Linked DNA regions of Homo sapiens. The protein of the gene in region 5 purifies or fractionates together with the protein of the main gene of each other region. This does not show direct contact. Each region holds a gene or a part of one and is shown on either strand. Other genes may lie near its edges.

The links.
Region 1: the proteins of GOT2 (region 5) and FAH fractionate together in Homo sapiens (co-fractionation; one large-scale study listed by BioGRID). This does not show direct contact.
Region 2: the proteins of GOT2 (region 5) and MB fractionate together in Homo sapiens (co-fractionation; one large-scale study listed by BioGRID). This does not show direct contact.
Region 3: the proteins of GOT2 (region 5) and METTL6 purify together in Homo sapiens (pull-down; one large-scale study listed by IntAct). This does not show direct contact.
Region 4: the proteins of GOT2 (region 5) and NQO1 fractionate together in Homo sapiens (co-fractionation; one large-scale study listed by BioGRID). This does not show direct contact.
Region 6: the proteins of GOT2 (region 5) and LYPLAL1 fractionate together in Homo sapiens (co-fractionation; one large-scale study listed by BioGRID). This does not show direct contact.
Region 7: the proteins of GOT2 (region 5) and MYDGF fractionate together in Homo sapiens (co-fractionation; one large-scale study listed by BioGRID). This does not show direct contact.

The regions. Positions count from the first base shown.
Region 1 is NC_000015.10:80,169,712-80,173,934, reverse strand, and holds part of FAH (fumarylacetoacetase), read right to left. Parts: intron 1,787-4,223; coding exon 1,687-1,786; intron 922-1,686; coding exon 791-921; intron 1-790.
Region 2 is NC_000022.11:35,610,337-35,614,559, forward strand, and holds part of MB (myoglobin), read right to left. Parts: intron 771-4,223; coding exon 548-770; intron 1-547. UniProt on the Homo sapiens protein: Monomeric heme protein which primary function is to store oxygen and facilitate its diffusion within muscle tissues.
Region 3 is NC_000003.12:15,417,519-15,421,741, reverse strand, and holds part of METTL6 (tRNA N(3)-cytidine methyltransferase METTL6), read left to right. Parts: intron 1-4,223. UniProt on the Homo sapiens protein: S-adenosyl-L-methionine-dependent methyltransferase that mediates N(3)-methylcytidine modification of residue 32 of the tRNA anticodon loop of tRNA(Ser), including tRNA(Ser)(UGA) and tRNA(Ser)(GCU).
Region 4 is NC_000016.10:69,716,138-69,720,360, forward strand, and holds part of NQO1 (NAD(P)H dehydrogenase [quinone] 1), read right to left. Parts: intron 2,398-4,223; coding exon 2,233-2,397; intron 2,117-2,232; coding exon 1,986-2,116; intron 1-1,985. UniProt on the Homo sapiens protein: Flavin-containing quinone reductase that catalyzes two-electron reduction of quinones to hydroquinones using either NADH or NADPH as electron donors.
Region 5 is NC_000016.10:58,713,311-58,717,533, reverse strand, and holds part of GOT2 (aspartate aminotransferase, mitochondrial isoform 1 precursor), read left to right. Parts: intron 1-720; coding exon 721-871; intron 872-1,354; coding exon 1,355-1,520; intron 1,521-4,223. UniProt on the Homo sapiens protein: Catalyzes the irreversible transamination of the L-tryptophan metabolite L-kynurenine to form kynurenic acid (KA). As a member of the malate-aspartate shuttle, it has a key role in the intracellular NAD(H) redox balance.
Region 6 is NC_000001.11:219,176,569-219,180,466, reverse strand, and holds part of LYPLAL1 (lysophospholipase-like protein 1), read right to left. Parts: intron 1,321-3,898; coding exon 1,221-1,320; intron 1,068-1,220; coding exon of another isoform or gene 1,041-1,067; intron 1-1,040.
Region 7 is NC_000019.10:4,660,159-4,664,381, forward strand, and holds part of MYDGF (myeloid-derived growth factor precursor), read right to left. Parts: intron 1,921-4,223; coding exon of another isoform or gene 1,563-1,920; exon of another isoform or gene 1,548-1,562; intron 593-1,547; coding exon 511-592; intron 1-510. UniProt on the Homo sapiens protein: Bone marrow-derived monocyte and paracrine-acting protein that promotes cardiac myocyte survival and adaptive angiogenesis for cardiac protection and/or repair after myocardial infarction (MI).

The DNA.
Region 1 (4,223 bases), on a different chromosome or scaffold from region 5:
CCCCAGCAAATGCGTGGTGAGATGCTCAAGCGAGGATGTGCAAATGGCTGGGAGCTCAGCCTGGATCCCCACAGGGAGGTCAGAATTGGAGAGGGGCATCGTGAGGACTCAGAGACACTGGAGAACGAGGACAGGTCACATGCCAGAAACCAAGGGGTGAGGGAATGCCAACAAGAGTGAGGGGCCACAGGAAGTCCATGCTGAAGGGGACACAAGGTCATGACACTGACTATCGGGTCACAGGTGACTCTGGCCAGGTGTTGCCAGTGATGGAGTGGGGCAGATTGCAACAGGCTGAGAAGGGAGGACTGGAACCAGGGGTCAAGGCCTAGACCCAGTGGTAGACCAAGCGGTGCCGGGAACCAGAGGCTGCAGGGACTCCCTGTTGCTGGGCTCCAAGCTGCATTCTATGAGTTGGGGTCCAGGTGGCGCCATTTGCACAGAACAAGATTTGATGGCCACCTGGGAGGTTGTGCAATGTTGGTACCTGCAGGGACTCCTCCTGCCAACTGGCCAGATCCCCCGGGTCTTGCAAGATTCTTAAGGTTACAAAATTCTGTGTTTTCTCCAAGAACTGTGCCAGGGCCAGGGAAACCACAAGGGAGAATGATGCCCTGGCTGCCTGGAAGTAATCGTGGCCAGGAACTCCCAGGCACTCTGCTGTGGGCATGCCGTGGGCACAGAGCTTCCCTCCTGATGGTCTGCATGCCTGGCATGTCCACTCAGTGGGCAAGCAGCCTCAGAGGCAGCAGGGCTGGGTTTGGGAGCTTCCTGCAGAGAATGTGCTTACCTGCTTCGGGTTGGGCACAGCAAAGGGCATGAGAGCATCCATGGGCACCACCCACGGAGAGACAGTGGTCCCAAAACTCTTCCCAAGGAATGGCCCGAGAGGGACATACTCCCACTTCTGAATGTCTCGTGCTGCAGAAGAAGGGCACAGCCAGGACTTACAAAGGCTGATCAGGGCATCTCCCAACGACCCCCTCCTGCCCTTGACCAAGGAGCAGAGACACCTAGCACTGCCATCTCCACAAAGATCAGCCCCAGTCAGGCTGCCCCAGGACAAAGGGGCAAGAGCATTCAATGCCAAGGACAGAGGTCCTTTGAGGGCACTGTGCCAGGTTACAGCAAAGAGAAGGATGACCAAACGGTGGTCAGGATATCTCCCAGGAAGGGGCTGGAAGCTCATTCTCAAACTATGAGAGAGACACTTTCTGGGGCTTATGGTGCCATCTTCCTCCCACGTATGGCAAAGGGTTGAGAGCTCAGGCTCAGAAGCTGGACTGTTTTGCTTCAAATCTTAGTTCAGCAACTAACTGAAATCTCCCTGTGCCTCAGTTCCTCATCTGTAAAATGGGAAGATAATATTGCACATACCGTGTAGGGATCAGCGGGAGAATATACGAAGGGTGTTAAGCACAGGGCCTGACACATAAGTGCTCAGTAAATATTAGTTATGATGTCAGCCGTGTCCCTAGCCACTCGAGAAAATTGGAGCTCAGAGGAGTTAAGTGAGTGGCCCGAGTTCTTAGAGCTGAAAGTCTGTTTGATACCCAGACCCCCACTCTCAGTCACTGCATCACCTGCCACTTTTGACCTGCACCAGATCTTCAGCTTCTATGAAATTGCCCCAAGTCCCCAGCCTCCTCCCCGTCATCTCTACAGGAGCAGAGCTCCAGTAATTACCACTCCAGTCGTTCATAAGGACCATTCCAAAAATGTGCTCATGGGCCTTGGAAATGGGGATCGGCTCTCCCAATCTGTTTCCAGGGCCTACAAAAAAAGCCTTACATGGGGGAGAGTTCATTAGAATCTGGAGCTGATCTGCCGCCCAGGTCACTTGTCACCTAGAGAGCAAAGGTCAGGTATTTCCAAACTCCAGCCATGGACCAGGACTGCCACAGGGGCCTGGCATGAATCCACTGTGTTTCTAAGTCAGAGGTCAGATGGACGCCTCAGGAAAGCAGAGTGCAGTGGTGTGCCCTGCCCCCGCCATCGGCCTTCCTTCCACTCCCCTGAGCTCCAAAGCAGCCTCCCCTCCCTTCAGTGCATCCCAGGCCACTCTGCTCTTTCCTCTTCATCCCATACAGCCTTTGCCTTTCAAGACTTGACAGCCACATGAGGCTTGTAAAACTGAAACTATCAGGGTTTGTATTCATGTCATGAAAAACCAGGCCAGGCACTGTGGCTCACGTCTATAATCTCAGCACTTTGGGAGGCTGAGGTGGAAGGATCACTTGAGCCTCGGAGTTTGAGACAAGCCTGAGCAACATAGTGAGACCCCACCTCTACAAAAAATAAACAAAATTAGCCAGGCATGGTGGCACATGTCCGCAGTCCCAGCTACTTGGGAGGCTTATGTGGGAAGATTGCTTGAGCCAGGGAGGTCAAGGCTGCAGCAGGCCGAGATCACGCCACGGCACTCCAGCCTGGGTGACAGAGCAAGACCCTGTCTCAAAAAATAAAAAAATAAAATAAATAAAAATTTTCATTGCTCAATTCCCACCTATGAGTGAGAACATGCAGTGTTTGGTTTTTTGTCCTTGCAATAGTTTGCTGAGAATGATGGTTTCCAGTTTCATCCATGTCCCTACAAAGGACATGAACTCATCATTTTTTATGGCTGCATAGTATTCCATGGTGTATATGTGCCACATTTTCTTAATCCAGTCTGTTGTGGGGTGGGGGGAAGAGGGAGGGATAGCATTAGGAGATATACCTAATGCTAAATGACGACTTAATGGGTGCAGCACGCCAACATGGCACATGTATACATATGTAACAAACCTGCACGTTGTGCACATGTACCCTAAAACTTAAAGTATAATAATAATAAAATTTAAAAATAAAAATAAAAAATAAAAAATAAATTTTTTTAATGAAAAATGAAAAACCAAAAGACTGCCTCCTTCATGCAGCAAATAGTACCAGAGAGAGCACACCCCACGGCCTCTAACCCCTATCTGTCATCCCACTACCTCTAAAGAAAAACAGCACCAACGTGATGTCCATGAACCAGCAGACTAGCCAGGCATCATTAGAAAGAAAAATTTGGGAAAATCTCTTTGAAAAACATAGACTCAGCCATGACATTTGCAAAACTTAGTCACCATTTTATTTGTTCTGTGACAATAGTTAAACATTGCAAATTTTTCATCAAGATGAAAAAAAGAACCCAAAAGCACTAGTCCAGGTGACCTGGGCTCTCTGCCCCAACCATTTCTCCACATGCTGACTCTCTGTCTTTTCTCTCTCCCTCTCAACAGGTGAAGTGTCTGCCTGCAGAGTCCTTAGTTCTCCCAGAGAGAAGACCATGGCCCCAAACCAGGGCTCAGATGCCCTGCTCTGATGAATCTCAGCTGGGGGTCCTCCTCCCGCAGTCTCACATAGTACCCTTGCTAAGGCAGGAGGAGGCAGAGGGCTGGCAGGGAATGCCCTGCTATCCACGGGCTATTCGGCAGTGCCCACTCATTTCCCTCCTCTGGACTGAATCCAGAGAAATCACAGGGAAGCCCAGGAGAGACAGGGAGCTCCAGAAAAGCAGACGGGCCTTTCAGCCTGCCTCCACCAACCAGGGCTTCCCACTGTCTCAGCCTGACTCGGTGGCCCCATGACAGCTTCTTCTACACCATCAGTGATGAGGCACTCAGAGCTTCCTGAGGCAACGCCTAAAACTGTAGGTGCTGACTATGGGAAAGCCCCCTCCATCTGCCTGTCTGCATTTCCCACACGGAGACTGACTCCAACCTTGGGCATCAGACAACCCAGCAGATGCTGAAGACCCTGCCAGGTCCCCGGAGCGCTGCCTCCCCCAGGTCAGCTCCTCCTTTCCATCACTTCCCTGGTCCCCTCACCTTGGGGGCTGCCCAGATTTCAGTGTCCCCTCTGAAAAATGGGCAGCATGAGGGATCCTCAGGTGGTGGGACCGACTGTATCAACATCAACATCCAGGTTGTGATAGAGCACCATGGTTACGAAGGATGTTGCCACTGGGGGAGACTGTGTGAAGGGTATTGGGATCTCTGTACTATTTCTCACAACTGCATGTGAGTCTACAATGACCTCAAAATAAAAAGTTTAATTTAAAAAAGTGTGCAGCCCTGGCCGAGCGCGGTGGCTCATGCCTGTAATCCAAGCACTTTGGGAGGCCGAGGCAGGTGGATCACGAGGTCAGGAGATCGAGACCATCCTGGCTAACATGGTGAAACCCTGTCTCTACTAAA
Region 2 (4,223 bases), on a different chromosome or scaffold from region 5:
CCAATAGAGCCAACCTGCTGGTCACCCCCACCCCAAATTGAGCCCCACTTGCTGAGCTCCTGCCACATAAGTCCTGCATGTACCAGACTCCCAGTGGCACAGCAGTTAGGGGCTGGGGTTCTGTAGTAATAGAGACCTGCGTTTGAATCTTGGCTCTGCCATTATCCACCTCCTGTGACCGTGGACAAGCTGCTTAACCTCTGTGAGCCTCAGTTTCCCCATCTATCAAGTGGATATGATAATGGTACCTACCCATGGAGAGGATGCAAATTTTGCACCCAATATCCCCTCTCCCTTTCCTCTTTGGTAATAAGATGTGAATTTGGCATACTAAATTAAAAATGCTAAGTGTGTTCATTCTCAACAATCCCAGGAGGAAGGCAAAGTGGGTGGCAGTCCCCTTTACAAATGAGAAACCTGGGGCACAGAGAAGAGTGGCATAGGTCATCCCACAAGTTAGTGGCTGAGCTTGGACTCGAACCCAGATCCCATTGCCCCACCCGAGGCCTTCCCCGCATCCTCCCACCTGCCCAGGCTCTGCTCCTACCTCCAGGTACTTCACGGGGATCTTGTGCTTGGTGGCATGCGACTGTGCCAGGGGCTTAATCTCTGCCTCATGATGCCCCTTCTTCTTAAGGATGCCACCCAGGGCGGTGAGCACGGTGGCACCATGCTTCTTTAAGTCCTCAGACGCCTTCATCTCGTCCTCTGACTTCAGGTGCTTGAACTTGTCAAACTTCTCCAGAGTCTCTGGGTGACCCTTAAAGAGCCTGTGGGCACAGGGAAGGCTGGAGTCGGCATGGGAGGTGCGGTGTGAGGTCTGGGGGCAGCCAGACTAGAGTTCAAGTTTAGCTCCCTGTCTTCCCAGCTGTGTGACCTTGGGCCATTCACTTCACCTCTCTGTGCCTCAGCTTCCTCATATAAGGGATGGGGATAACTTGTCCCTACTTGAAGGATTAAGTGAGATAGTGTGTGCTATGTACCAACAGGGTGTCTGGCACATAGTGAGTGTCATATAATTCCCATTTTACAGATGTGGAAACCGAGGTTCTGAGGCGTAAAGTCACCAGCTCACTATTGCAGGGGTGCTGTCCAGAGAAGCCAGGCTGGAATGAGGTCTGAGTGACCAAAACAGCAGTTCTAGTCCACGCTGCGACCATCTCTGCAGCTTCCTGCCCAGGGATTGTCCTTCAGCTGCTTAAATACCTCTAGCTACAGGAGGCTCACTCCTACCTGTGAGGGCCATTCCACTCCAGAGCAATCCTCACACTCAGAAACCTCTTGCTTGTTTTGAGCCCAAGCTGTGACTCTCTGAACCTCCCAGTCCCCTCACTGTGCAGATGACGAAGGGTCCTGGTGGGAGCAACTCAACCCAGCCCTGAGACAGGCACCCACTCCTGCCAGGCACTCAGTGAGGTGCCCCAGAGGCCTCTGCTGGGACTCTGAGCAGCCACCTCCAGCTTTAGACCTCGGTCCTTCCTGCCCACCTCCAACTTTAGACCTTGGTCCTTCCTGCCCACCTCCAGCTTTAGACCTCAGTCCTTCCTGCCCACCTCCAGCTTTAGACCTCAGTCCTTCCTGCTGTGAGCAGGTGGGTGCTGGTTAAAGGGAGTCAGACCTGCCCTCTGGGTAGGAGTGAGTTTCCGCCTTTTACTCATGGAAGACCACAGAGATAAGTGGCCAAGGTCACTTGGCTAGCTAGCGGCAGAGCCCAGACCTAAACCCAAAATGGAACAGTTTCATAACTCCCACCCTTTCCCTTGTGCCACAGCTGAAATGTTTGGCACGGGCAACCCTGTCTGCCCAGGGCTCTCTCTCCTGTCTAATGGTTTCAGTTCCTTGAAAAGCTCCTCTTTTATGATACCCAGGCTCTGTGACATCCTTGTAAAAGTACACAGTATGTATTGTGGCCACACTCCAGTTTGCGCCCTGAGCCACCATGCCCAGAAGTTGTCACAAGGAAGCACCTGATCCCCGTAGTCTCCATCCCAGGGTTTTATGAGGAGGGTATTTCACAACCAGGATGCTGAGCTCCTCAACCTGAAAATGAGTTCATGGTTTTTTTGTTTTTTGTTTTTCTTTTTTGAGATGGAATCTGGCTCTGTTGCCCAGGCTGGAGTGCAGTGGTGCAATCTCTGCTCACCGCAACCTCCACCTCCTGGGTTTGAGCAATTCTCAGAATTCTCCATGTTAGGCAGGATGGTCTCGATCTCCTGACCTTGTGATCCGCCTGCCTCAGCCTCCCAAAGTGCTGGGATTACAGGCGCCCAGCCATATTAACTGATTTTAAAATCCTGATGGGGTAGACGCCATTTTGCAGAGGAAGAAACAGAGGCACCGAAAGACTAACTAGCTGGGGATTTAACCCAGGCAGTCTGGCTTCATGTCTATACTCTTGATGACTATTCGGACTTTGTTATTGTTACACAGAGATATTTACAGGCAAACTGATACCTACATGGACATGTATCAACACCTCACACGTGTACATGCATGCAGGCTCTCACAGATGTGTGTGCACACTCACATATGGGCCTGCACACTCACACAGAGGTACACATAAATATATCCCAGCACACGCCATACTCACCTGCACACACACACAGAGACACGCACAAGCCTGAACCACATACACTCCCTTCCCCCATGTTGGGCATGGTCTGCCGCCGTGCCCAACATTGCCACCTCGCTCCAGGACCTTATCCAAATCCTCGTGCGTCACTGACGGCTTGTCTCTGACACCTTTCATCCAAGGGTCCCTGAGCTCCTGACTATTATTATCTGGCGACAATGATCCTTGAACTCCCGCCTGACAGATGCAAGACCTGGCATGCACAGGCGATGGTCAGAGGTCAGGACGCTGAAAGCAGACTGTCTGAGGCAGAGCAGGGCCAAGAATTTGGGCCACAAGGCAGCTGGGGGTCTCAGACATTTTGGGGCCTGCCCCTGCCCTCTGATATCTAGGGAAGAGAACATGGGACTGACAGTTACGGAAGCTGAGTTCCGGTCCCAGTTCTGGCGCCAATGTGCTCTGTGATGTTGAAGTCACTTAGCCTCTCTGGATCATTGCTCATCCATATGTAAACCAAAAGGGTCTAGACCCGCCAATGCCTTTCTTTCCACTCAACACCAGACAGCCAGGGAGAGAGCTCATATTTACTTTATTAATATTTTTTTGAGACACGGTATTGCTCTGTTGCCCAGGCTGGAGTGCAGTGGTGTGATCTTGGCTCACTGGAGCCTCAATCTCCTGGGCCCAAGTGATCCTCCTACCTCAGCCTCCCGCGTAGCTGGGACTACAGGCACACACCACCACGCCCAGCTAATTTTGTTTATTTTTTGTAGAGAAGGGGGGTCTCACTATGTGGCTCAGGCTGGTCTCGAACTCCTGGACTCAAGCGATTCCCCGATCCTGCCTCCCAAAGTGCTGGGATTATAGGCCTGAGCCACCCCACCCCACCCCATATTTACTTTAAACAGCAGAGCAGAATCGGGCTAATTTGTCTCCCCGCAAGATCATTCCGGCACCACACAGCTGCCTGCCTCCTGTGGGCCCAGGCCTTGCAGCTAGGAGCCCCCCAGGCAGCCACAGAAGGCCATTCTCCTGGATTTGCCTGATCCGGAAAATGAACAGATGAAAGCCCCTCAGCCTGTGGAAATGGACGGAGGGCGTTTGCTCTAGTATTTCAGAAAGCCCCGCTGGCCTGTGTTTCCAGCTTCAACCCTGCTGTCAGTGGGCCTGGTTCATCAGACAGATCTTCAGTCCAAGTCAGAGAGAAGGGAGGCCATTTTCCTGCTGTTCTCTGAACTGAGGCCCAATTGGACACTCACATGGAACATGGAGCACATTGTCAGATCCATGAACACCCCTCTGGCTCTACTAGAATAAAAGAACCAGAGCGTGGGTGGCAGCCCGTCTTGCGTGTGGCAAGGTCATGGGGCAGTATAGCATAGTGGTCAAGAGCAAGGATTCTGGGCCGGGCTCATTGGCTTGTAATCCCAGCACTTTGGGAGGCCAAGGCGGGCAGATCACCTGAGGTCAGGAGTTCGAGACCAGCCTGGCCAACATGGCGAAACCTAGTCTCTACTAAAAATACAAAAATTAGCCAGGCATGGTGGCATGCACCTGTAATCCCAGCAAGACTCCATCTCAAAAAAAAAAAAAAGGAGCAAGGATTCTGGATCCAAGCTGCCTGAATTTGAATTCCAGCTCCTTTCTTACT
Region 3 (4,223 bases), on a different chromosome or scaffold from region 5:
GACAGGGTTTCACTATGTTGGACAGGCTGGTCTTGAACTCCTGACCTCAGGTGATCCACTGGCCTCCCAAAGTGTTGGGATTACAGGCATAAGCCACCGCACCTGGCCAAAAAGATTTTTTTAATTAGCCAGGTGTGGTGGCGTGTGCAGCTGTTTGGGAGACTGAGGTGGGAAAATCACTTGAGCCCGGAGTTTGAGGCTGCATGAGCTATGATCATGCCATTGTACTCCAGCCTGGGTGACAAAGCAGGACCCTATCTCAAAATAACAAAACCCAAACCCTTTATTTTTAAAAAGTTAATATGTTTACTGTAGGAAACTGAGAAACACAAGAAGCAAAGAACAGTCATCCACAATCACAAGCAGTTTACAGTTTGACTTGTCCTTCTAGGTCCTGTGTGTACATAGACACAGTATCCAATTTTATGGGATTAAGATCACGCAGTATGTATCGTGTTTTATCACACATTATGGATATTTACTAATTATATTATTATATGTTGTCACATCAAGACATCTATGAAGCTTAGGTGTTGCAAAATAATAAACTCTGTCCACAATAAACACAAGTACTTTACTAAAAATGCACCTATAGACCTGTGGTTTTTCATCTAAAACCATCTTCTAGATATGGAGATTCTGACTAAGAGCCCTTCCTTCCACCCGTTCTTCTTTATCCTGTTCTGTCATTCCAGTGACTAAGTACAGGACTATGTCTAGTTCTAAGAGGTCAATTAACAAAGGTCACTCCCAGAGGATAGTCCTTCTTAAGAACTGAAAACGTGAATAAATGTTACACGTACATAATAAGCTGCCATTTGAAAGTGTCATCTAAATAGGAACGAACATTCTGGCATAGAACCCTTCCCACCTGTCAACTCAGTGGATAGATATAAGCATTTGTAGTGCTTAGAGGGGACTTTAACAATTTCACTTCCCTAAGTGTTTTTAAGAACAGTCTTTCCTATGAATTTGAACACAAAATGTACTCAGTGTATTAGGTTACTGACTCTACGTTGGTCATACGCTGTCAACCTCTTTAACATCTAGAACTAGATGTTGTAAATTAGGGCTCATTTGTCCTTCATATACACTATATACATAGCAAAGTAAAATAAAATGCATGGACATAAGGTACAGTGGTCAATCTTGCCTCACTGTAAACACATTGGTATAAAGCCCTTTGCACTTTATTCTCCTCCTTTTCTCCTGACGCAGTACAAATGTAATGATGTGTACTGCTTAGAGAAGTGGTTTGATCATTACATTTCCAAAAGGTAATATTTCAGTGAATTTTAACAAAAGGATATCTACAAAATGTGTTACTTACTACCCTACTTTTAACATACTTTGTGCACTTCTAAACATCTAGAAAGTCTCGATGTTTTAAATAAGGACTTAAGTCTGTCCACTTTATACACAGTAGATTTTTAAAAATAGTTGTGGTATCATATTTACCATAACATGCTTTCCTCATTCTACATTATTATATTTTGCAGAGTTTTTCATGTTAGTACATGTAGATTTTATTTACCTGTTATAATATTCCATGGAATGGATATAGCATACTTTAACAGTTACCTGGCTGGTGCAGTGGCTCACACCTGTAATCTGAGCACTTTGAGAGGCCGAGGTGGGCAGATCACGAGGTCAGGAGATCGAGACCATCCTGGTTAATATGGTGAAACCCCATCTCTACTAAAAATACAAAAATTAGCCGGGCATGGTGGCGGGCGCCTGTAGTCCCAGCTACTCGGGAGGCTGAGGCAGGAGAACGGCATGAACCTGGGAGGCGGAGCTTGCAGTGAGCTGAGATCATGCCACTGCACTCCAGCCTGGGTGATAGAGCGAGACTCTGTCTCAAAAAAAAAAAAAAAAAAGAAAAACAGTTACCCTATTTATATTTATTTGAATTGTTTCTATTTTTTTGCTCTTACAAATAGGGTTAATGTGATCAGCATCATATATATGTTCCCAAAATGTCTGTACACATTTGTCTGTGATGAATAATGGAAGAAGCAGAATTCCTTGGAAGAAGAGCATGCTCATTTATATTTTAATAGACAATGCCAAGTTTCCTTCCAAAAAGCTCATACTAATTTATAATTTCACCAATAATGTAAAGGTACCTTTTTCTGTATTGCCTCAACTCTTGATATCAGTCTTTTTTATATTTACCAATCTTTTGGACAAAAAATAATGCCTCCATATTTTAATTTGTTTTTTCCTTATTACCAGAGAGGTTGAAGGCCTTGTGGAAGGTTGATAGCAATAGTTAGCTGTGAGTTTATTTAGTCCACATTTGTTTATTGAGAGCTTAATGTGTGCCAGTCACTGTTCTAAGCACTGGAGTTAAACAGTGAACAGACAGGCAAAAATTCCCACCCACATGAAGTTTGTAGTAGGAGTTGTCCATTCATAACCTCTGCCCATTTTTCTATTGGTTTGTCATTTTCTTTCTTATTTTCAGGATATATTCTAGATATTTTGGTATGTATGTTGCAAACATTTCTTCTAGTTTATTCAGCATCGCTTTACAGTATCTCTTTTTTTTTTACACAAGGATTTATTTTATTTTATTTTTGGACAAGGTCTCACTGTGTCACCTAGGCTGGAGTATAGTGGTGCAAATTGCAGCTCACTGCAGCCTCGACCTTGTGGACTCAAGTGATCCTCAGCATCCTGAGCTGGGACCATGGGCATGCACCACCATGCCTGGCTAATTTTTAAAAATTTTTTGTAGAGATGAGGTCCTGCTGTGTTGCCCAGGCTACACAGGATTTAAATTATCATGGCAAAATATTAATCTTTTCCTTTTGAAGTTCTATTTTATGTCTTGTTTAGGAGTCCTTTACTCCTAGGATTTACTTTATTTTTCTTAGAGATCAGGTCTCACTATCCCAGGCTGCTCTCGAACTCTTGGGTTCAAGCGATCCTCCTGTCTCAGCCTCCCAAAGTGCTGGGATTACAGGTGTGAGCCACTGCGCCCAGCTATTCCTAGGATTTAGACATAATCACCTATATATTGCTCTTACTAATTTTTGGTTATATAGTTATTTTATAATTTTGGTTATGTTTTTTAATCTGGAAAAATTAGGGTCATTATTTCTTTGAATTCTTTCTTTAGCTCTTGTTCTCTCTTCTCCCTCTGGGATTCCAGTTATGTGTGTAACATTTTCTATTGCCCCACAGCCCTTAGATGCTGTTGTTATAGGGTTTATTCCCCCACTTTTTTCCTTTTTGCATTTTCAGTTTGTGTAATTTCTATTATCCTATCATCAAGTTCACTGACTGTTTCCTAGGCAGTACCTGTTTTGTTGAGAAACCTATTGAAAGTGTTCATTTCTTTTACCATATTTTTGGTTTTTAGCATTTCTCTTAGAGTCTTTTTATAGTTTCCATCCCTGAAATTATGTATCTGATTTTGCATGTTGTCTGTCTTTTCCATTAGAGTCTTTAGCATTTTAATCATAATTATTTTAAATGCCCAAGCTTTTGGATCCAGCATCTGTCATATTTGAGTCTGGCTCTGGTGATGGCTTATTCTCTTCACACTATGTTTTTTGCCTTCTGGGATGTTTTCTACTTTTTGGTTAAAGCTAGACATATTATAAGGGCCAGTAGATACTGAGGGATAGGGATTTGTAACAATCTAGTCAGGAATTGGGCTGTTGTTTGAAGTCTGTTGTTGCTGTCTGTGAGGTTTGTTGTTGCTGTGGGCACCAGAGACTTCAAACCCCTCTAGCAACTTGTTTTTGTCTCCTCTCTTGGATTTGGGTCTTCCCTTTGTACCGTTTCCCAAAGAGTCTATCTGTTGTGGCTCTCCCAGCTGCAATTTCCTGTTATTCTTGGAGATTCGATGGTGGGGTGTGGGAGAGGGGGTCGTTCTCTAATGTTCTGCTTCTCCAAATTTGAACTGGTACCGTGGGCCTGTGTCTCAAGGGTAGTCATTTGTCTCAAGGGTAGCCAGTTCTTCTAAACACAGTAAATTGAATGAGAAATTTTTTCCTCACTCATAATTGTCATCTTTATTATCTACCTTTTTGTCTAATTGTCACCTTTGTCTATCTTTTATCATATAATATACAAAATTCCTGTTTATATATACAGTATATACAGGTCTGTTTTGGGACTCTGTTTTGTCTCAGTGATACATTTGTCTCCATTCTCAAACCATGTTGTTTTATTACTACGTTTTGTAATATATTTTGATATCCAGTAGT
Region 4 (4,223 bases), about 11 Mb from region 5:
CCTGGGTGACAGAGCAAGACTCCATCTCTAAATAATAATAATAATAATAATAATAATCATCATCATCATCAACGTGGCTAGGTGCAGTTGCTCATGCCTTTAATTCTAGCACTTTTGGAGGCCAAGGTGGGTGGATCACTTGAGGTCAGGAATTTGAGACCAGCCTGGCCAACATGGGGAAACCCTGTTTCTACTAAAAATACAAAAAGTCAAGCGTGGTGGTGCATGCCTGTAGTCCCAGCTACTTGGGAGGCTGAGGCAGGAAAATGGCTTGAACCCGGGAGGCGGAGGTTGCAGTGAGCCGAGATTGCACCATTGCACTCCAGCCTGGGCAACAGAGCGAGACTCCATCTCAAAAACAAATAAATAAATAAATAAAATGTTAAAAAATAAAAATTATAATAAATAATAATTAGGGTGACTAAGGTTCATCAGGGACTTCCCATGAGAAAGTCTTGTCTGACCTCTTATCCTAATAAAAGCAGAGTAAGGACTATACCAGGAGGTTTTCTTATCCTTGATTCATGATTTAAAGATATGAAAGGCACATGCCTATAATCCCAGCCTTTTGGGAGGTCCAGGCAGGCAGATCACTTGAGCCCAAGAGTTTGAGACCAGCCTGGGCAACATGGTGAGACCCTATTTGTACAAAAAAATTAAAAAATTAGCAGGGCATGGTGGTGTGCACTGATAGTCCCAGCTATTCGGGAGACTGAGGTGGGAGGATCATTTGAGCCCAGGAGGTTGAGGCAGCAGTGAGCAGAGATCATGCCACTGCACTCCATCCTGGGTGACCGTGAGACCTTGTCTCCAATTTAATTTTTTTTTAAAGCCGTCCTTTGGGGTACTGGCTAGTGGCATGTGGCTTTGATTCTTAGCAACAGGCCTGTGGGTAAAATAAAGGACTTCAAGGATTGGATGTTTTGTAGCTGATTGAATAACTAAAAAAAAAAAAGAGAGAGAGAGAGAAAAAAAAAACACAGCCTGTACCACCCTCCTCGTGGTTTCCAGGATCATATACATTCTATGTTCAATATCAAAAGACTGGCTGGAATTGTAAAAGCAAAGTCATTGAGTACAGTCACATTTATAGGAAAGATCACTGACGAGATGCACGCACAATCCCAGCATTGTCTGCTAAACGGTAAGGCAGCTTCCCGAAGAAGAAAGGCCGTGGTTTGCTGCAGGAACACATTCAGCAGGGTTTCAAAGCCCCCTTCAGCTGGCAGGCTACAATGGCAGAGAAGTCAATGTCTCATGGATTATTCTACAAAGTATTTGGGATTCTTATGGAGAAAGGAGGAGAACTGCAAATTTTGAGAGAGTCCAACAGGAATCGCTAACCGCAGGATTCGCTAACTGAAGGAATCGCTAACTGAAGGAATCGCTAACTGAAGGGGAGACTAAGTACCTGGAAGAAAGCAAGCTCAAGGACTGTACATCATCTCTGCAGCTGCATTTCTTTCTTTCTTTTTTTTTTTTTTTTGAGACAGAATCTCGCTCTGTCGCCATGTCACCAGGATGGGGTGCAGTGGCGCAATCTTGGTTCACTTCAACCTCCACCTCCCGGGTTCAAGTGATTCTCCTGCCTCAGCCTCCAGAGTAGCTGGGACTACAGGCACATGCCACCACGCCCAGCTAATTTTTGTACTTTTAGTAAAGACAGGGTTTCACCATGTTGGTCAGGATGGTCTTGGTCTCTTGACCTTGTGATTCACCTGCCTTGGCCTCCCAAAGTGCTGGGATTACAGGCGTGAGCCACCGTGCCTGGCCTTGCAGTTGCATTTACACATGCAACAGTAATACAGCCAGATTCCCAATATCTGTGAAATCCATGTAATACTGCACCTTTAAAGTAATCACCCTTATTTGCAGAGAATGCAGTAAAGTGGGTAACTGTTTAAGATCTCATAGCTAATTAGGTACATGTCTAGGACAATAAGCACGCAAATGTCCCTGACACCCCTTCCGATGTCCCCCCATACCTGGAATATCACAAGGTCTGCGGCTTCCAGCTTCTTTTGTTCAGCCACAATATCTGGGCTCAGATGGCCTTCTTTATAAGCCAGAACAGACTCGGCAGGATACTGAAAGTTCGCAGGGTCCTTCAGTTTACCTGCAGAGAAGAAAAAGAGAGGCTGGGGCCAGAGGGGCCAAAGCTGGGCCAGAGGACCCACAGGCAAGGAGATCCGCAAAGAACTAATTAAAGAGGGGAGGAGGAACTCCTCCTACCTGTGATGTCCTTTCTGGAAATGATGGGATTGAAGTTCATGGCATAGAGGTCCGACTCCACCACCTCCCATCCTTTCTTCTTCAAAGCCGCTGCAGCAGCCTCCTTCATGGCATAGTTGAAGGACGTCCTCTCTGAGTGAGCCAGTACGATCAGTGCTCTTCTGCCTACAGAGACACACACAAAGCACACACGGAAAACCCATTACCAACCAGCAAACCTTCAGCTACAGGGGAGTTGCAGTCTGTAAAGGAGGGGGCGGCTTTGTTTGACATTAGGTTATTGCATTCCATCTCCTGTAGCCAGAAATGTATTTTCCCCTTAAAAGCACTGAAGATTAAAGGAAGCATTTAAATCAGTGGCTGATTTAATAAATAATGTTGACAACTGGGCTCTGTGGCTCATAACTGTAATCCCAGCACTTTGGGAGGCCAAGGTGGGCAGATCACCTGAGGTCAGGAGTTTGAGACCAGCCTGGCCAACATGGTGAAACCCTGTCTCTACTAAAAATACAAAAATTAGCTGGGTGTGGTGGCAGGCACCTGTAATCCCAGCTACTTGGGAGGCTGAGGCAGGAGAATCACTTGAACTCGGGAGGGGGAGGTTGCAGTGAGCCAAGATTGCACCATTGCACTCCAGCCTGGGTGACAATGGGAGACTCCGTCTCAAAAAAAAAAAAAGATGCTCTGCGTGACCTGTCAGGAAAAGCAAAATTAAAATGAGACATTTACCCATTCGTTTACATGGGTACTGTGTTTACATTTACCGTGAGTTTACATTTACCCACAAAATGTAAAACAAATAACACCCAGGGTTATTAAGATTGTACCAACAGAAAAATTGGCACCTTACTGGTGGGGATAAGAACTGCCTCAACCTTTAGGGAAAGTAATGAGGCAGAATCTCTTGAAACTTTAAAGACACATAAATCTTTTATCTCGCTCTCCAATTTGGGGGAATCTGTTCTACAGACTAAAAGCTTCAGGCTATAAGAGCAAAGATGTGTATTACACCATGCTTTTCACTGGCAAAAATTAGATATAACCTGATTGTCTATGGGGAACATTTTAAGAAATTATGGGTACATCCACACTACAGGATATTTTGCTGTTAACAAGAATGAGTTGGCCAGGCACGGTGGTTCGAGCCTGTAATCCCAGCACTTTGGGAGGCTGAGGCGGGCAGGTCACGAGGTCAAGAGATCAAGACCATCCTGGCCAACATGGTGAAACCCTGTCTCTACAAAAATACAAAAATTAGCTGGGTGTGGTAGCGGGCACCTGTAATCCCAGCTATTCGGGAGCCTGAGGCAGGAGAATCGCTTGAACCCAGGAAGCAGAGGTTGCAGTGAGCTGAGATCTTGCCACTGCACTCCAGCCTGGGTGACAGAGTAAGACCCTGTCTCAGAAAAATAAATAAATTAAGATAAAAGTAAAAAATATATAAAAAAGAATGAGTTAAACTGGCTGGGCACAGTGGCTGGAGCCTGTAATCCAGCTACTTGGAAGGCTGAGGCGGCAAGATCCCTTGAGGCCAGGAGATGGAGACCAGCATGGGCAGCATAGTGACACCTTGTCATAAAAAAAAATTTTTAGAGACTGTTGACCAGGTACGGTTGCTCACGCTTCTAATTCCAGCACTTTGGGAGGCCAAGGCGGGAACATTGCTTGAGCCCAGGAGTTCAAGACCAGCCTGGGCAACATGACAAAAGCGAAATCCCTTCTCTACAAAACGTACAAAAATTAGCTGGGCATGGTGGTGTATGCCTGTAGTCCCAACTACTCAGGAGGCTGAGAGATGGAAGGATCACTTGAACCCAGGAGGTTGAGGCTGCAGTGATCCGTGATCGCCGCACTGCACTCCAGCCTGGGTGACAGAGGGAGACCCTGTCTCAAATAAACAAATTTTAAAAATTAAAAAAATTAAAATGAATTAACTATATGTAGTGACTCAAAAAGATATCCATGCTATATTATTAACTGATAAAAAAGCA
Region 5 (4,223 bases):
CATGATCACTCTCAAAGTGTAGCCAGCTGTCAGAGAAGACACTAGTCAAAATTCCTAGGGAGGAAAATGTTATTCCTGTTGTCTCATGTCCCTGTTTTCCCTTTTCACTCCTTTTCATTTCCCTTTCTTTTCTCTCTCTCTCTTTTTTTTTCTTTTGAGACAGAGTCTCACTCTGTCGCCTTAAGCCAGAACGCAGTGGCACAGTCACAGCTCACAGCAGCCTCTACCTCCAGGGCTCAAACAATCCTCCTACCTCAGCCCCTGAGTAGCTGGGACTACAGACATGTGTGCCACACCTGCCTGGCTAATTCTTCCTATTTTTCACAGAGACAGCATCTCACTTTGTTGCCCAGGCTGATCTCAAACTCCTGGGCTCAAGTGATCCTCCCACCTTGGCCTCCCAAAGTGCTGGGATTATAGACATGGGCCACCATGCCTGGCCAGTTTCCCTTTCTTTAACTTCTGTCAAATCTAAGCTGCAAACAGAATGAGACAGAAACAGCATTTGGAGAGCACTTTCAAGATAAAATGGTTCTAATGATGTTGTCTCGTGAGTCCTGGGTATAAGTTGAGTCTTCCAGGATTACGTTAGCCCCAGAAAAGGCTTATTGTGCTTATTGGGACCATGCCCACCTCACATAAACATCTTTCAGACTTTTATAAACATCTGGGGCCTCTTCAGAAAGACTGCTAAAGCTTCGATCTTTCGTTCCTTCTCAGAAAAGGAATCTCTTTGCGTTCTTTGACATGGCCTACCAAGGCTTTGCCAGTGGTGATGGTGATAAGGATGCCTGGGCTGTGCGCCACTTCATCGAACAGGGCATTAATGTTTGCCTCTGCCAATCATATGCCAAGAACATGGGCTTATATGGTAAGCTACAGCATCCAGCATGACACATGCTCTCATGCTGGGAGAGAATGCCACGAGGGCATAGAGCTTGTGGGTGTGTGTGTGTGTGTGTGTGTGTGTGTGTCCATCCATGTCCATGTCCCTCCCTACCCTAAGATGAAAGACCAGTATCGTAGATTTTACTGATTTTCTTAGCCATATATTCTTCGGTGTCCTTAAGTTTTTCCAGCAAAGGAAACTGATTACTGCTTCTCTAAACAAAAAGTAACAAATCCGTGAGCCAAGAAGATAGATACAATAAAAAATACCTTTGAATACTCTGAGTACTCAAAACTTCCTTGTGCCTCAGTTCACCACTCTGGTTGTTGAAAGCTTTTTATTTATAATAAAGTTATTTTGGGGTCCTTTGGATGGAAACAGATAATACGTAGCAAATACACTCATGATTTGCTTTAGCACATTAGATAGTAGAAGTAGAAGACGAGATCCATTTTTGTCTTTCAGGTGAGCGTGTAGGAGCCTTCACTATGGTCTGCAAAGATGCGGATGAAGCCAAAAGGGTAGAGTCACAGTTGAAGATCTTGATCCGTCCCATGTATTCCAACCCTCCCCTCAATGGGGCCCGGATTGCTGCTGCCATTCTGAACACCCCAGATTTGCGAAAACAATGGTAAAGGTTTATGCCACTCCCCAGCCACCTACCTGTTCCCACCACTGCTCCTTCAAAGTTAGTTTTTAATTGACCTCTAGTGATATACAGTACCCCATAGATTCCATATGTGGAAGGCAGGGAAGGAAGCAAAAAATGTGCATTCCTTTTTTAAAAAATTAAGGCCGGGCACAGTGGCTCACGCCTGTAATCGCAGCACTTTGGGAGGCCGAGGCAGGTGGATCACCTGAGGTCGGGAGTTCGAGACCAGCCTGACCAACATGGAGAAACCCCGTCTCTACTGAAAATACAAAATTAGCCGGATGTGGTGGTGCATGCCTGTAATCCCAGCTACTCGGGAGGATGAGGCAGGAGAATTACTTGAACCTGGGAGGCGAAGGCTGCAGTGAGCCGAGATTGCGCCATTGCACTCCAGCCTGGGCAACAAGAGCAAAACTCCGTCTCAATCTATATATATAGATAGATAGATAGATTGGTTGAGACAGGGTCTTGCTCTGTCACCCAGTCTGGAGTGCAGTGTTGCAATCCTAACTCACTGTAACTTTGTACTCCTGGCCTCAAGCAGTCCTCCAGCCTCAGCCTCCCGAGTATTTGTTAGCACTTTGAACCAAGTTAATTGATATTTCTCTGTAAGAGGCAGTCATAATTTTTAAATGGTAGTTCCTTTTATTCCGTCATCTCCGTGTTAAGTAGAACCTGCTTTCCCCTAAAATCAGTTTCAAATTAAGTACCTTACATAGGAAAACTTCCTTAAAAACATCATATTTTTGTTTGTGTCCTAATAATTGCTAGCATTGAATCCGTATTTTTGCATATGTTTGTATTTTATTGTAGAGACAGGGTCTTGCTGTCTTGCCCAGGCTGGTCTCCTCAAACTCCTGGGCTCAAATGATCCTCCCACCACAGACTCCCTAAGTGCTGGGATTGCAGGTGTGAGCCACTGCACTCAGCTTGTTTTTTATTATCTGTACTATCTGACTCTCAACATCTGTTCTCTGAATTAGTGTTACTAAATTTTTTTGACCACAATCCACATAAGAAATATATTTAAGTCTGGGCACAGTGGCTCACACCTGTAATCCCAACACTTTGGGAGGCTGAGGTGGAAAGATCGTTTGAGACAAGCCTGGGCAACATACTGAAACCCCATCTATAAAATTTTAAAAATATATATTTTACATCATGACCTTGAACATATTATATACTTATATGTGTATATAACTGAAACTGTCTTCCAGACTCAATACTAAAGGCTTCATGTGCTTTACTCGAGTTTTTTGTTTTGTTTTGTTTTTTGTTTTTTTTTAAACAGTCTTGCTGTGTCACCCAGGCTAGAGTGCAGTGGCACAATCACTGCAACCTCCACCTCCTAGGCTCTAGCAATTCTCGTGCCTCAGCCTCCCGAGTAGCTGGGATCACAGGTGTGCACAACGAGACCCAGCTAATTTTTTTTTTTTTTTTTGAGACGGAGTCTCGCTCTGTCGCCCAGGCTGGAGTGCAGTGGCGGGATCTCGGCTCACTGCAAGCTCCGCCTCCCGGGTTCACGCCATTCTCCTGCCTCAGCCTCCCAAGTACCTGGGACTACAGGCGCCCGCCACTACGCCCGGCTAATTTTTTGTATTTTTAGTAGAGACGGGGTTTCGCCATGTTGGCCAGGCTGTTCTCAAACTCCTGGCATCAAGTGAACCACCTGCCTCGGCCTCCCAAAGTGCTAGGATTACAGGCGTGAGCCACCAAGCCCAGCCTCCACTCCAATATTTTCTAAATGCCAACTGCATCTTACTAAGTTGAATTTAACATACTAAGCCAGGTAAGGTGGCTCACACCTATAATCCCAGCATGCATTTTGGGAGGCCAAGGCAGGTGGATCCCTTGAACCCAGGAGTTGGAGACCAGCCTGGGCAACATAGCAAGACTGTGTCTCTATTAAAATAAAAGAAAATAAAAAAATAAAAAATAAAAAAATTAACCTACCAATGGGTCATGACACATAATTTAGAAAACACTGCTGTAGAAAGGGGTTGGCAAACTGTTCTGAGAGTCAATCCAGTTTGCCCCCTATTCTTGTAAATAAAGTTTTATTGGAACACAGCTGTACCCATTTGTTTATGAATTTTGTATAGCTACTTCTTTGCTGCCATGGCCGAGTGAGCAGTTGTAGAAGGCAGAGACCATATGGCCTATAAAGCCTAAAATAATTACTGTTTGGCCATTTACAGAAAGAATGCCAACCCCTACTCTATGAGTTCATAAAACCATGATGCCTGTGGAAGGTGTGATTTGTTATATGAGTTTATCGTATATTTGTTATATGAGCTGCTTAGTTGAGAGGTCACATCTCTGAGCAGCTCTTGGGTAGAAAAGCTAAATCTGCTATCTCTAAGAAACTTGATATGTACCTCCCCTAGTCATCATGTGACAACTATTTTTTCTGTCTCTCTGTCCCATGAAGATTAAAGTAAATACTAAGAGTCTGGTTCAGGATAGTTTTTTTTGTTTTTTGTTTTGTTTTGTTTTGTTTTTTCCTTTTGATTTTTTATAAAGACAAGGTCTCACTGTGTTGTCCAGGCCAGTCTCAAACTCCTGGGCTCAAGTCATCCTCCCACCTCAGCCTTCCAAAGTGCTGGGATTACAGCTGTGAGCCACCGCACCCAGCTCAGGGTAGTTCTTTATGGTATAATAGGTTCATGCTAGACCTACCAA
Region 6 (3,898 bases), on a different chromosome or scaffold from region 5:
GTCTTACATTATCATTTTGTTCTCCCTTTTTCAATTCTATCAATTAAAGTAAGTAAATTCTTATTAGTACATATAAAAACGTCCTTGAAGTTCTGGTTTTATTTCTCCTTAATACTAAGTTAATGAAAATATAAAGCAAGGCATTTGCATAGTATGCCTGATAAGAAAAAAATCAAGAACAGGCCAGGTGCAGTGCCTCATGCCTGTAATTCCAGCACTTTTGGGAGGCCGCGGTGAGTGGATCACCTCAGGTCAACAGTTCCAGACCAGCCTAGCCAACATGGCAAAACCTTGTCTTTAAAATTAGCTGGGCGTGGTGTCACATGCCTGTATTCTCAGCTAGGCAGGAGGCTGAGGCAGGAGAATCCTTTGAACTTGGGAGGCAAAGGCTGCTGTGGGCCAAGACTGCACCACTGCACTCCAGCCTAGGCAACAGAGTGAGACTCTGTCTGGAAAAAATAAAAAAAGAAGAAGAAAAAGAAACAAAAAAAAATCAAGAACAGATTATGAGAAAAATCAGATTGGGGCGTAGCTCCACACATCATTTCACTTAACCAAAAAAAAATCCCAATCCCTGATTTACGGCATGTGTTCCGAATAAAAGACTATGCAGATGTTAATTTAATATTTACAAAGAGTAGTTTGACCTCAAAACTATAGCAGTTTTATTACTGTGAATTTTTTGCACACACCTACAGGTTATATAACCTAAATATTTATTAAGTAGTCAATTCTATCTTCCTATTCTGGTTTACTGATTAAAAAAGCATAACATTGTTTCTTGATAATCCTTTTAAATGTGGAAAGAATGCCATAAAACCCTTTCCCAGAGATTATGAATTCTGGCTTAACTAAATTATTAGAAAGATTATACTTGTTGGAGTTATTAAGTTTCCTTTTGGGGTGAATGTAGGGAAGAAGTATGAAAGTTGAGCAATCTGCAGGGCAAGAGGAAGCAGAGTTACATAAGCCATGCTTGGGACACAGTTTAAATTCAGAGCTTTAGGGAATGCTTTACAGAAAGGGAATAAATTACTCACCTGGCAAAACTTGGTCCAACAGTGTAACTGCAATAAAGAATACATTCTGGGGACAAAGTACTCTAATTTAAAGTATGTTAAATACAAAATTAAGCTTAAAGAACACCTAGCTGGCACATCTCTCTATATATATTTTATGCCACAGAGTTATATTGACAAGTGAGATAAATTACTGCATACCTGGGAGGAGCTGTTGGATAAATAATTTTTATGTGTTGGAATGTTAAATCTTGATTTAAAACCTGCTTGATCCACATTCTTAATCCTTGTCCAGAATCACCTGATGAATCAAAAAATCTAGATTAAAATAAATATTTTAGTAATACAATGCATTTCAAAGCAGTCTAAAACTTTTATGTCACACAGAGGATGGAATAAAGGATTTAAAAAAGCTCCATACATCATAATAACCATATAGAAACTGACTTACTAATATGAATTAACTAACTAGGTCTCAATAACTAGCAATAATTTTGATTATTTTACTCCTGGCTTCACCATTGATTACTCTGAAGATCTTGTTTAAGCTTAAGTTTTAAGTTACCTAATTTGTTTAGTGGGTAGTACAGGAATAAATAAATAAATTGATTTTTCTAAAAAAAATTTTATTTCTGTATTTATATGTGACTTTTAATAGTCATTTCTTATCATATTCTTAATAGTAATAAATTCCTAAAGTGACTGTTAAACTTCTGTAGTTAGAAGAACCTAATTTTCTTGGTTAAAAAAAGTCCAAAATGTGTGTTCAGTGTAATTTTATTTTAACTTGAAAAAATCATAATTTAATTTTGACAACATGTTTACATGACCTAAAAGAAGAATTATCTACTCCAAAGCTGGTAAGTAATAAAAAGCCATATAAATATTAATGTATATGTATTTACAGAAAAAAATGGAAGGAAATATAAGTCCATCTTATGGAGTCCTGAGGAGGAAATTAAGGTCACAACTTTAATTTTTTAATCAATTAACTCATTAAGGTATCAGTTCAAAAACTGCCTATTGAATCCCTGTTAATGTGTCAAGCACTGTGTTCACTGCTAGAGAGGCAATGATGGTGGGGTGAGGGAGGAATAGAGTCCCTATTCTCATGGAGTGTGTAGCATATTGTGAAAAACAGAAATTAGTCAAAAAATCACACAAATAAATGTGAAAGGCAAATGTACCTGCTTCAAAAATGAGACACTTGGTGTTGCAAATATTTATTTTATTCACAACTGACTGGGTTTATGGAGTTCAACAATAAATGCACTAGCCTATAAACTCTGCAAGAGGAAGTTTATGATGTATTTTATCTGAGTTATTTGTTCACATAGTGCCTAGAACAGGACTGACAAAAACTGGGTATCCAAATATAGTTGCTGAATGGTTTGAACTAAAGTCTACAGGATGGTGAGAAGTGCAGGGCAGAAGAAAAAAGTATCCCAGGGCGAGGAAAGGGCAGGTGCCAGGATTCTGGATAAGAGGGAGCAGTATGACATGTAAGAACTGAAAAGCAGAGAATGAAAAGAGCAGTGTCTATAAAATGAGACCAGAGAAACTGTAGGAACGTGACAAATCTGTTCATGAAGAAGTCATGAATATTTCTGACAGAAAGGTTGGCATGATTCTAAAGGATCAATCTGGAAGCTGTGTCAAGACAGAATTGAAAGAGAGCAAAAGTAGATGTACAGAGATCAGTTAGGAAACTACTGTTCATGCTTAGACTACAGCGATGATGTAGATAGAAACAGATACTAGAGAAATTTAGGTGGTAAAATTAATAGAGATTGGCAACGGATTTGTTATAAAGGGTCAACAGTAAAAGGTCTCATGGATGACTAACAGGCTTTTGGCCGGAGTAACTGGGTGAACAATACTAGACACCTGCCTAGACAGGAAACATAAGCAACAGGCATACACAGGTTGAGTGTGAGGTGCCTCTTTGTAATGCATACAAGGTCTTATACCATGGGTTGATTGAGCAACTATGGACAGCTAGAGGGGAGGACAAAATCCAGCCTAGGGTCCTTAAGGAGGATAAGCTAAGAATGAGTTTTACATTATTAAAGACTCCTTTCTCAAAAAGAGAGAGAAGGGAAAACTATGGGGAAGAGACCTTACATGGCCCACAAAAGCTAAAATGCTTACCTGACTTTTTGCAGAAAGTTTGCCAACCCCTGCCCTACACTACCTGGATGCCAGTACCCTCTTGGATATCCCTTCCTATTCTTCTCACTCCAGACACACTAGCCTTACTGCTGTTCCTTGAACATGTCAAGGACCCTACCCTGGAGCCTCCGACTTGGCTTTAAAGCCAAGTCTAAGTCTAGCTGTGAAGTTTCATCTTCTGTCATCTTTGCAGTGAGGCATAACCTGACTACTTTATTTAAAATTGTAACACTGTTCCAACTTCTCATCCATGGAAGAATCCCCTTATCCTGCTTTCCTTGTTTCCATAAAACTTACTACCTTCTACTATAGTATTTATTTACTTCATTAGAACATAAGCTCCATGAGAGCAGTGATTTGTTTTTTTCATTGCTGTATGATCAGAGCACAGAACAGTGCCTTACACATGGAGGCTGTGATATATTTCTTGAATGAATGGATTCATGAATGAATGTCTATCAGGCAGTTAGATGAACTTGTCTAGAGCTCAAAAATAGAATCTATGAATCTCCACAGAAATTCAAAGGTTCTATTTTTACCTATACACCAGTGACACAAATGGGTATCTCTAGGAGACTTCTGTGATTAGCCTAGGGAGAAAAATGTAGAGTGAAAAGACCTTGGACCAAATTTAGAGAAACCCCATCATTAATGGCCAGGTAGAGGAGGATGAGTCTGCAAAAGAAACCAGAAGGAGCAAATCAAGA
Region 7 (4,223 bases), on a different chromosome or scaffold from region 5:
TCTACTGTCCAGGCTGGAATGCAGCAGTGCAATCATAGCTCACTGCAGCTTCAAAGTCCTGGACTCAAGTGATCCTCCTGCTGCGGCCTCCTGAGTAGGTGGGACTATGGGTGCATGCCAACACGCCTGGCTATTTTTTTTTTACTTTTGGTAGATATAGGGTCTTGCTATGTTGCCTAGGCTGGAATCAAATTCCTGGCCTCCAGCAATCCTCCTGCCTCAGCCTCCCAAATTGCTGGGATTACTGGCGTGAACCGCCGCGCCTGGCCTGGAGAAGTCTTTTCTGGCATATACAAGAGAAGCCAGCAGCAACAGGTTACCAAACCCCCGTGCCCCTGGCCTGGGGGCGTCTGTGTGCCAGGTTCCTGCAAGTTACACACCCTACCTCTGCAGGATTCGCTGTCCCCTCTCCTCCCTGTCCCCATGGAGCCCTCTTGTGGCAGGACATCTCACAGCTGCCCCAGTGCACAGAAGCCACACCCGGAGCCTGCCCCACTCCAAGATACTCACGTAGGCCATGGCGTACTCAATCTCAGCGCCCCGCACCTCTGCCTTGAACTGTGTGAAGTACAGATAGGACTTCCCCTGGGGCCTGCAGAGGAAGAGGGGGCGAGGGAGTCAGGCCAGGCCTGCTGGGTCTGGGTCTGTGTGCCCTGGAAGGAGCCCCGCCAGGGACTCGGGCTGGGGTCAGCAGGTCTCGTGCCTGCTTCTCAACATGGACGCCATTCCCGAGCACGAGCACCTGCTGACTGGGAAGGATGGATGGGGCCCTCTCAACAGCAGACCCTCTTTCTTTTGTGCCAGAATTTTTTTTTTTTTTTTTTTTTGGAGACGAGTCTCACTCTGTTGCCCAGGCTGGATGGCAATGGCACAATCTCACTCACTGCAGCCTCTGCCTCCTGGGTTTAAGTGATTCTCCTGCCTTAGCCTCCCTTGTAGCTGGGAGTACAGGCACCCGCGACCACATCTGACTAATTTTGGTATTTTTAGTAAAAACATGGTTTCACCATGTTGGCCAGCCTGGCCTGAACCCCTGACCTCAAGTGATCCACTCGCCTCAGCCTCCCAGAGGGCTGTGATTAGAGGTGTGAGCCACTGTGCCTGGCCCCTTTGTGCCAGAATGTTCTTCCAGCTCATTCATAGACACGCCTCTCTCCCCTGTGGGCTGGGAGCTGCTCTGGGACAGGACCCCATGTCCATTCACTGCACATGGCTTCTTGGTTGCTGACAGCAATCCAGGTACTACGACGGGGGCTGGGGCTGGGCAATGAGAGGCCAGTAAAGGCTTCTCAGAGGGCATTGACTAGGAAGTACAGGAGTTAACTTAAGAAGTGGGGAGGATCATCTGCCCAGGTCTCTAGAAGGCTGCTAACGGAGGCTTCTAAGGAACTGGAGTGGCAGAAGGTGTCGGAAGGTGACAGCAGGGGATGATGGCATCTCTGGTGTGAAGAGAGTGTGATGGGGATGGAGGGGCAGCAGGGGGGCCATTTCTGTGGAAGCCCTGGCTGGGGTTCTATGTGCATGGGTGGGGCGGGGGTATCCAGGGAGCCCTAGATTCTTCTTTAAGCCCTAGCACTGCCAACAGCCCTGGTCAGGGAGGGTCCAGTCACTGTCTGAGATGAGGAGGCCTGGGGTGGCAGGTCTCCGGGGCTGAGCATGCCCCTGGGGAGCTTTTGTGGGGGTTGGACAGGAGGATTCAGGCTCAAGGTGAGCCCAGCCACCATCCCAACTGCTCCAGACCTGCACCTGCCCAGATGCCCTCTGGGGAGCTGGCACTCAGGGGTCCATGCAGGGCAGTGGCCTGCAGACAGACGATGGCGACCGTGGGCTTCCCCAAGACTACAGGGCGGCCTCTGCAGGGTCTCTCTGGGCTGATGGGGCCTATCTCCTCTCAATGACCCTCCTGATGCCTCCTGGGGCCTTGGCCTGCCTGTGATGCAGCCAGTTCCATGGAGTGGGTGAGAATCTCCCCAGAAACACCTGCTGTTTGTAAAGCGCCCCGCAGGGCACGGCGGGACAACACCCACACGAGGCAGCAAATCACACCCTGTCCTTCAGTTAAACGTCGCCACTCCCTGATCTCTGCCTCCCATTTGTCAACGTGCTTTAACCTGACCGCAGTGGTGGAGCTATAGCTTGGACTTCTCCCTCCAAAGTGTCTGCACAAAATAAAGGCTCAAGAAATACCCACTGTTTGGGCTGAGACATTCTGGGCCAAGGATCAGGGAAGAAGGGACAAGATTCCTGAAGCCCCCGACCCCCTCCCCACCGGGGGGCCTGACGGCTTCCTTCCCTTCATGACCTTGCCCAGATCGAGCTGGGATCTAGGCAGTGGGGTTACGAGAATGAGTGGGGCGAGTGGAGCCGGGATAAGCCCATAAACCATGAGCCTGACAGAGGATGGCGGCAGGGGCAGAATCGGGCGGTGTCTGGGGAGACTTGGGGAGGGGCTGTGGACCCAGATGCATGTGTGTTCGGGCAGGTGGAAGAGAGTGCACAGCTTTTGTCTGATTCCCAGATGTCTGCACCCCAAGAAGGCTATGAGCCATCAGGCTGGTCCTTCAGAGAACATGCTGGTAAAGACCTGCCTGAGGGGAAACAGCTGGGGCCCCTTCTGGTGGGACACATTCCCCGGGAGATAGCATCATCCAAACCTCCACAGCCACTACCCCACAGACTCCCACACCTGCCACCTGCCTAGCTCGTCCCCAGCCCAGACCTGCACCAGCTCCGCCAGTTCCACCAGGACTCTGCCCAGCACCTTCCTCCTCCTCCTACCCCAGCTAGCTGATTCCACAGCCTCCAATCTGTGCCCTCCCCTCCTCCCTGTCCTCATTTTACACAGCCTCCAGTCTGTGCCTTCCCCTCCCACTCCGTCCTCATTCTACAGCCTCCAATCTACTCTCCCCACCCCACTCCATCCTCATTCTACAGCCTCCGATCTACATTCCCCACCCACCTCATCCTCATTCTACAGCCTCCAATCTACCCTCCCCACCCGTCCTGTCCTCATTCTACACAGCCTCCAATCTACCCTCCCCACCCGTCCTGTCCTCATTCTACACAGCCTCCAATCTACCCTCCCCACCCACCCCATCCTCATTCTACAGCCTCCAATCTGTGCCCTCTCCACCCATCCCATCCTCATTCTACACAGCCTCCAATCTACGCTCCCATCCACCCCATCCTCATTCTACAGCATCCAATCTACTCTCCCCACCTACCCCATCCTCATTCTACACAGCCTCCAATCTGTGCCCTCTCCACCCACCCCATCCTCATTCTACACAGCCTCCAATCTACCCTCCCCACCCCATCCTCATTCTACAGCCTCCAACCTGTGCACTCTCCACCCACCCCATCCTCATTCTACACAGCCTCCAATCTATCCTCCCCACCCACCCCACCCTCATTCTACACAGCCTCCAATCTACCCTCCCCACCCACCCCATCCTCATTCTACAGCCTCCAATCTACCCTCCCCACCTCATCCTCATTCTACAGCCTCCAGTATACCCTCCCCACCCACCCTGTCCTCATTCTACACAGTCTCCAATCTGTGCTCTCCCCACCCACCCCATCCTCATTCTACAAAGCCTCCAATCTACCCTCCCCACCCACCCCATCCTCATTCTACACAGCCTCCAATCTGTGCCCTCTCCACCCACCCCATCCTCATTCTGCACAGGCTTCAATCTGCGCCCCACCCCCAACCCCCGACTCCATCCTGGTTGGTGCCTGGAGGGGCTCCCTGCCTCAGCCTGCCTCCTTCAGCCGGGGGGATCTGAGCTCCACATGTTCCTGCAGGGAGCCCTCTGGAATAGGACTCAGCCAGGAAAAGAAATGAGGCTGACACGGGCCTCAGCATGGATGAGCCTTGAGGACGTCACGTTCAGTGAGAGACGCCAGACACCAAAGGCCACACAGGGAAGGTTTGACCCCATTTCTATGCAATGTCCAGGACACGCCCATCCACAGAGACAGGAGGGGGATGCGTGGCTGCCATGTGCTGGGAAGGAGAATGACTCTGATGGGAACAGAGTTTATTTTCAGGGGATGAAAATGTTCTGGAAGCAGAGGTCTGGCTGCACACCTCTGAGAAAGTACTCCATGCAGCTGAATTGTGAGCTTAAAATGCTGTGCTTTATGGAATTTTATCTCAGTTTTTAAACATTGCCAAAAAGGGTCAGGCATGGTGGCACACGCCTGTAATCCCAGCTACT